2 linked regions of the Homo sapiens genome follow. The protein of the gene in region 1 interacts with the protein of each later gene in a pairwise test. Each region holds a gene or a part of one and is shown on either strand. Other genes may lie near its edges.

Region 1 (3,407 bases):
ATCACACGGCGCGCACCTCACACAGCACACGATCACGCGGCGCGCACCTCACACAGCACACGATCACGCGGCGCGCACCTCACACAGCACACGATCACGCGGCGCGCACCTCACTCACAGCACACGATCACACCGCGCACCTCACACACACAGCGCACGATCACGCGGCGCACACCTCACACAGCACACGATCACGCGGCGCGCACCTCACACAGCACACGATCACGCGGCGCGCACCTCACTCACAGCACACGATCACGCAGCGTGCACCTCACACACAGCGCACGATCACACCGCGCACCTCACACACACAGCGCACGATCACGCGGCGTGCACCACACACACAGCGCACGATCACACCACGCACCTCACACACACACACAGCGCACGATCACGCGGCGCGCACCTCACACAGCACACGATCACGCAGCGTGCACCTCACACACACACAGCGCACAATCACACCGCGCACCTCACACACACACAGCGCAGGCACCAAGGAGTTTTGCCTGGTATATTCGGTTGCTGCTAAACATTCCTAGGAAGTTGAGAAGGTTCATCCTTGCTGATCGGTGATTGAAATTCAGCAACATCCCTGTGGCTCTGCAGTGTGTGCCAAGGTCAAATCAAATCATAACGACGTCCTCAATCACCTCCCTGTAAACCGGGTGCCAGCCAGGCCCGTGCTCACACTTCCTGAAACAAGTTCACCATCTGTGCCACCGATGCCAGACAGAGCTCCCTGCGACTCCGAAACGTGTTTCTCACTTCCCACAAGGGAGCCACTCTCCAGGAGCAGCTCCTGAGCACAAGGGCTACGGCTGGGGCTGGGGCAGGCTCAAGCATTCGTGCTGAGTTTCAACAGCCTGTGTGGCGAGCAGCTACTGCGGGACAGCACGTCACCTGGATGCTGAGACGGCGGAACAACATGAAAACATCCACCATGCCAGAAACGTCAGCCCACAGATGCTCCTAGAGGAAGATGCAGCGGACACGAAGGGCGGTATGAGAACAGGAGAAACACAGACAGCTGCCGCCACCACCGGCTCACACGCAGCCTCCGACATGAAAAGAAAGTGCTTCAAGAGCTTCCACTCCACTGGTCTGGCTTCCCTTCAACCAGAAAGGGGGCACAGGCACCCAGCAAGAGCCTGTGCTGGTGACACAGAATGTTCTTTCTAGAGCCCAGGGGACAGCCCCATCCTCTGAGCTGGTCACAACTGATGTCACCTTTTCCTTCTTGAAGGGACATGCCAGGATGCAGGGGAACAAGTTAAAAAGCTTTTCCTAATTTGAGGTGAGAGACACCACTGACCGCCACGATCAGCAACTTAGCGTCGCCTCCCCCGGTCTCATCTTCTTGGCATGCCCGTCGGGCCCAGGCGGGGGACTCCGGCGCCGCTGCTTCTTCTCTAGCTGCTGCTGCAGTCTCTCCTCTTTCTTCTTCAGGTAGGAGGTCACGTTGTCGAACGTGGCCTTGTAGAGACTGCTGAAGCTGGCGTCTGCGCCGGCAGAGCCTGTGATGGGGGAACAAGGACAGGTGCCAGGTGGGGCAGGAACATGGGACTCGGCCACCACAGCGGGCCCCCTGCAGCAGGGAGTTACCTCGTGACTCCCAGAGTCCTCGGTGGACCGTGGGGGGCGCCTTCTGGGACGGCTCCCCACGGTGCCCACCTCCTGGGACCCACACCCTGGCTGGACCTGAGGACTGGCTACTAACAGAACGGGGCAAAGATGAAAGAATGTAATGGAAACCAGGGCACCAAGGCTGGGCCTCCACCCCGCCAGCACTCTCTGCTTGCACGCCCGGAGAAAGCCACTACTGCACCATGAGCCGCCCTGTGGAGGGGCCCAGGTGGCAGGGGACCAGGAGCAGCAGCCTCTGGCCAACAGCCAGAGAGGCCCCCTGTCCTGCCGACAACCCAGACTGAGTGAAGTCGGGCCCTGCCTGGTGAAGCTGAGATGGCCACCTGCAGAGACACAGCTCAGCTGAGTCCGGACCCCTGACCCACAGCAACAGTGAGACAGTAAGGGTGGGGTGCCTTAAGGCATCGAGTGTGGGATAGCATGTTCTGCCGCCACAGGGAATGGACACGGATTTCATCTACTTTATCTAAGTGCCAAGGATTGGGGGCAATGACTGACCACAGGCACACGGAGACAGCCTCAGCCTGGCCAGGAAACCACAGGCCCAGCCGGTAACCCGCGCACCAGCGACTGCCTGAAGCCTGCCCATCCAGCAGGTGGCGCAGCCTCCCCGCCCCTCCAGCGACTCTGCTGCTTGTGGGACACTCTAGCAGCAGCCCTCCCCGGTCCCTCTCCCAACGCAGGCCCCCAAGTCTGCGCCGGGAACAGGCTGCTCTATCTATGGAACATCTCAGGAGAGCGAGCCCAGGCTTTGGCCTGAGACTGTTGTGCAAGGTGACACTCAACAGGTCTATGCTGTCCGTGGCCTAGAGCACGGGGGCCATGAGCACTGCAGATGCCCGGCCATGAGCACTGCCGCCTGCAGTCCCTGACACAGCCAGTGACAGGCCCACTCTGAAGTGTTCCTAAAGCAGATCCCAACCACGCTGGGGGGCCCAACCCTGCCCGTCTCAACCCTCAACATCCTAAGCAAAGCAGGAGGGAGAGAAGCCTCAGAGGCAGAGCCAGCGTGCCGCCACTCGGGGAGCCTGGCAGAAGGCGGCTGGGCCCCAATCAGCGGAAACTCCTCCGACCTCAGTGTGAATCCCTCCAGAGCTCCAAGGAACCTCAGTGCTCACTGCAGTGGGGTTTAGCTTTGCAAGACTTCAGAGCAGCAACTTCTTGTCGTGAATGAGGCACCTGGATTCCATGCTGGGCTAATCCATCCTGCAGACACCATCACCTCCAAGACTGCAAGGTGCTGGCACAACGACGCACCCAGAACTACAGTGTGTCGTGTCCCCAGAAGGCAGGGTAGAAAATGTTCGTCCAGCTCCTCCCTCAGCCTGGCTGCTCTCCTTCCTGCAGCCGCAGCCACGGGAGTTGCTGGCTAGATTCCCTCCCCTCAGCTGAGTGTTCCTGTCAGGACAGTGACCATCCTGCCCCTGCTCAGCCTCCTGAAGACCCCCGGGGCCTCTGGCTAGACCCCCACTAAACCTCCCAGTGAGGCCCTGCACTTACTGACGCCCACTGCAGTGGGATCAATTCCCTCAACACCATGGACCAGGCATGAGGCAGCACAGCACCAGCTCCCTCTGGGAGCCACCAGCTGCCAGCCCTGCCCTGGGGACCTTCAACGCCCAACTCTGAAGGCAGGTGCTCAGACCCTGAGCCCCCGGTTCCTAAGTGGCTCTCGTTAGCCTGACTCCCATGGGGGGCTCCTTCTTCTGCTGTGCGTCACCCACCTCCTGCCCTGCCCCGCCTTCTGGATGGGGACACAC
Region 2 (3,500 bases), on another chromosome or scaffold:
CACGGGTAGCCTTGCAATTCCAGCAACTTCGTGCAGGGGACAGAGGAAGTCAGGCTGCCACGGGGAACACCTGGCCGGGAGGGATGCAGTTTGTGGGGGCTGGTCCACTCATCAGTGGGGTGACAGTGGGCAAATCACCTGCGGAGTGTGTGTAAGTGGGAGTAACAAGACTGCCTACCCTGTTGGGCTGTGGGAGGGTCACAGGATTTAACAACAGAACAGTCTTACAGCAATTCCCAGTATAAAGAAAGTCAATTTAACTGAAACCTATTACCATTAATTTTTTAGCCCCAAACTAACAGGATTTGGGACTTGGTAATTCTGTTAGAGACACTGTCCCTTCCAGGTCCTCGCCTGCCTCATGGCACAGCAGAGCTGGCCTGGTTTTTATGAAACTGACGTTCATTATCGTATCCTCGTAAAACCAGATCTGCAAAGAGGAGACTCTCAGCAAATACTGACTGAATCACTGCTGTGTGAAAATGGCGTTCTCGTTACTGCTTGGAGTTAGGGAAAAATTTCAAGTGAGAATGCCATCTTCAACCTCTGTTTTAAAATATTCACGTTAGCTTGAAAGGAACAATCTTGAATTAGTGAATGGAGCGGCACGGAGGTGACTAAGCAGTGAGAGGGGCTCCTGTCAGACAGCGGTGTGAGTCTCGCTACCCAGCGTGGGGGCACAAGCACCCGCTGCCGTCAAAACACGGCTCGCACCGCACCACACCCCCCCGCGGCAGGCAAGGCCCTGCACCCTCGCGGCCACCTCAGTGCCAGAACGGCCTGCTATTCGGGGCTCCTGCAGGTGAACCCGACGTGCTGCCTCCTAAGGCTCCAGCAAACGCCGTGGCCCCGATTTTCCAGGCGAGGAGCATCGGAGCCCGTGAGGCTCAGGGCGGGCTCGAGGCCACACAGCCACTGCTCCTACCTGGAGTCAGACCCTGGCACCAAGTACCTTTCCAAGGTGAGGTTGGCGTCCTTGACCTTCCTGAGCTCCTCCTGGACAAGCTGCTTGGCCCGGATCTCCGCCTCCAGGGCCGACTGCAGCTCCAGCCGCGCGGACATGTCCAGCTTCTGGCTGCGGCGCACCTTCCACAGCGGGTCCTTGAGACACGGTCATGGCGTTAAAAATGCATTTTCAGTTATCCGCTTGTTAAACTAATGTTAACAAATAAGTTATCTTTGTCTAACCTTAAGCCATTACGGTCTCATTTAGATATTAACTCTAAATTATGGAGGTGCCTCAGGAGTTTTAGTTTTGATATTTTATGACTTTTTTTACTCTTCCTCAGAAATCTTCTAAAAAATAACTAAATAATTTACTTTATCTTTTAGAAGAATAAAAGTGATTCTGTAGTGCAATTTCTTTTCTTTTCTTTTCTTTTTTTTTTTGTTTGAGATGTAGTTTCGCTCTTGTTGCCTAGGCTGGAGTGCAATGGCGTGATCTCAGCTTACCGCGACCTCCGCCTCTTGGGTTCAAGCGATTTTCCTGTCTCAGCCTCTCCAGTAGCCAGTAGCTGGGATTACAGGTGCCGCACCACCATGCCTGGCTAATTTTTGTATTTTTAGTAGAGACAGGGTTTCACCACGTTGGCCAGGCTAGTCTCCAACTCCTGCTCTCGTGATCCACCCCCCTTGGCCTCCCAAAGTGCTGGGATTACAGGCATGAGCCGCTGCGCCTGGCCTCTGTAATGCAATTTCTATATGGGTCCACTGGACCCTGGACCCTTTTACAAACCTAAGGTACATTATAGGGTTCGGTTATCTTTTTCTCATAACTTGAAACGTTTTGCTATTTCACCATCCTGGGAATTATGTCATTACTCATTCCTACCTGTGATTAAAAAAAAAAAAAAAAAAAAAAGACTAAAATAATAAGGGAAGAATGACAGAGTGACCTAGGATGAAGCAACAGTGGAATAAGCCAGTTCACTAACATCATCCTCCTGTTTTCTTACTGAGTTGCCCAATGTATGACATCAACTTTCGAGAGGTATCAAAGAAGTCCAGAGATGCCATCTTGCTGTTTTTTCTTTTTTAAAACAAACTGAAAACCTTTCATTGAACACAATTGAGAATGCTTCATTTTCCATCTATAACAGTAAAGAGAAGAAAATGGACAGAGGAAGGCCAGGTGTGGGGGCTCATGCCTGTAATCCCAGCACTTTGGGAGGCCGAAGCGGGCAGATCACCTGAGGTCAGGGGTTTGAGACCAGCCTGGCCAACATGGTGGAAACCCGTCTCTACTAAAATACAAAAATGAGCCAGGTGTAGCGGCACACGCCTGTAATCCCAGCTACTCGGGGGGGCTGAGGCAGGAGAATCACTTGAAGCCGGGAGGCGGAGGTTGCAGTAAGCCGAGATCACGCCACTGCACTCTAGCCTGGGCAACAGAGTGAGACTGTCGCGGGAGGAAAAAAATAAAATACACACATCACTAAATGAACCAATGAAATTAATAAAAGCAAGCTCTCTGAGGGCAGAATCCAGTCTTAACTTGACACCACGGAGCTCAGTGCTCAGTAATTATTTGCTAAACGAATGAATGCTGTCGAGAGAAGCCATGATGATCTGAGAGCTGGCAAATGTTGGCGTTCCTTAAATTGGGGAACTGGTTACACAGAAGTCTCTTGCATCACTGTAATTCCCTAAATAGTACTTATATGTCACATTTATACTTAAAACCATTAGCGAATTATTCAGTAATAGAAATGCAGGCATTACACAAAACCTACCAGTGTTCTTGACCCCAGACTAGAACTCCTCAAAGCCTCGAGCTCTTCGGTCATCTTGGAAGCAAGAGCTTGAAGGTAACCCCGGGCATCTTTCTCGTCACTGACCCTGGAGGAGGGAACAGATGTTCTATCTCACGAAGCATGGCTATCAGGGAGAAGCCAAACAAGAAGGGGACGTTCCCGCCTTCCTCGGCACACAGTGACACAGTGTCACGTCAGCTAGAGTGCCCGCAGTGTACCCGTTGTATACACGGGATCTCATTGATGGATGCGTCGTTACATTGCACATGACTGCAGTTTAAAAAGACACCAAACTTCCAAGACTCAAGAATGAAAAAATTCTATTACTCCATAAATATATATACCTACTACGCACCCACAAAAATTAAAAATAAAAACTCTTTTTTTAATTACAACTTCACACCTTAGGAGCGGAGGGCCAGGTCCCAGCTCGCTCCAAGTCTCCCTGCTGCTTCTGCAGCCGCTTTGGGAGGGCTCTGCCTCCCCTGTCTCTGAGAACGCAAGGGGTGTGAACGGTTTGCCCCAAGTCCTTCAGTGGGTTGGTGGGGGCGTATCTCCACCTCTATTCCAACAGAACCACTGCCCCAGACATGAGAAGTTCTGGGGAACAGCAGTGAGACCTGCACCCCAGCCTGAGAGGCACGGCCTGGCGTGGAGCACAGGATCAGGCAGAAGAGGCGGGGCAGACCCCATGGACTGAGCAGGGAGCGGATTCACGGCCGCTAATGGGGCCGCGCACGTACCACT

The links.
Region 2: the proteins of WDR4 (region 1) and CDC42BPB interact in a two-hybrid assay, tested with the Homo sapiens proteins (one large-scale study listed by BioGRID and IntAct).

What each region holds. Positions count from the first base shown.
Region 1 is NC_000021.9:42,848,726-42,852,132, forward strand, and holds the end of WDR4 (tRNA (guanine-N(7)-)-methyltransferase non-catalytic subunit WDR4), read right to left. Parts: intron 1,518-3,407; coding exon 1,324-1,517; 3' UTR 501-1,323; downstream 1-500. UniProt on the Homo sapiens protein: Non-catalytic component of the METTL1-WDR4 methyltransferase complex required for the formation of N(7)-methylguanine in a subset of RNA species, such as tRNAs, mRNAs and microRNAs (miRNAs).
Region 2 is NC_000014.9:102,963,550-102,967,049, forward strand, and holds part of CDC42BPB (serine/threonine-protein kinase MRCK beta), read right to left. Parts: coding exon 3,497-3,500; intron 2,839-3,496; coding exon 2,733-2,838; intron 1,102-2,732; coding exon 953-1,101; intron 1-952. UniProt on the Homo sapiens protein: Serine/threonine-protein kinase which is an important downstream effector of CDC42 and plays a role in the regulation of cytoskeleton reorganization and cell migration. Regulates actin cytoskeletal reorganization via phosphorylation of PPP1R12C and MYL9/MLC2.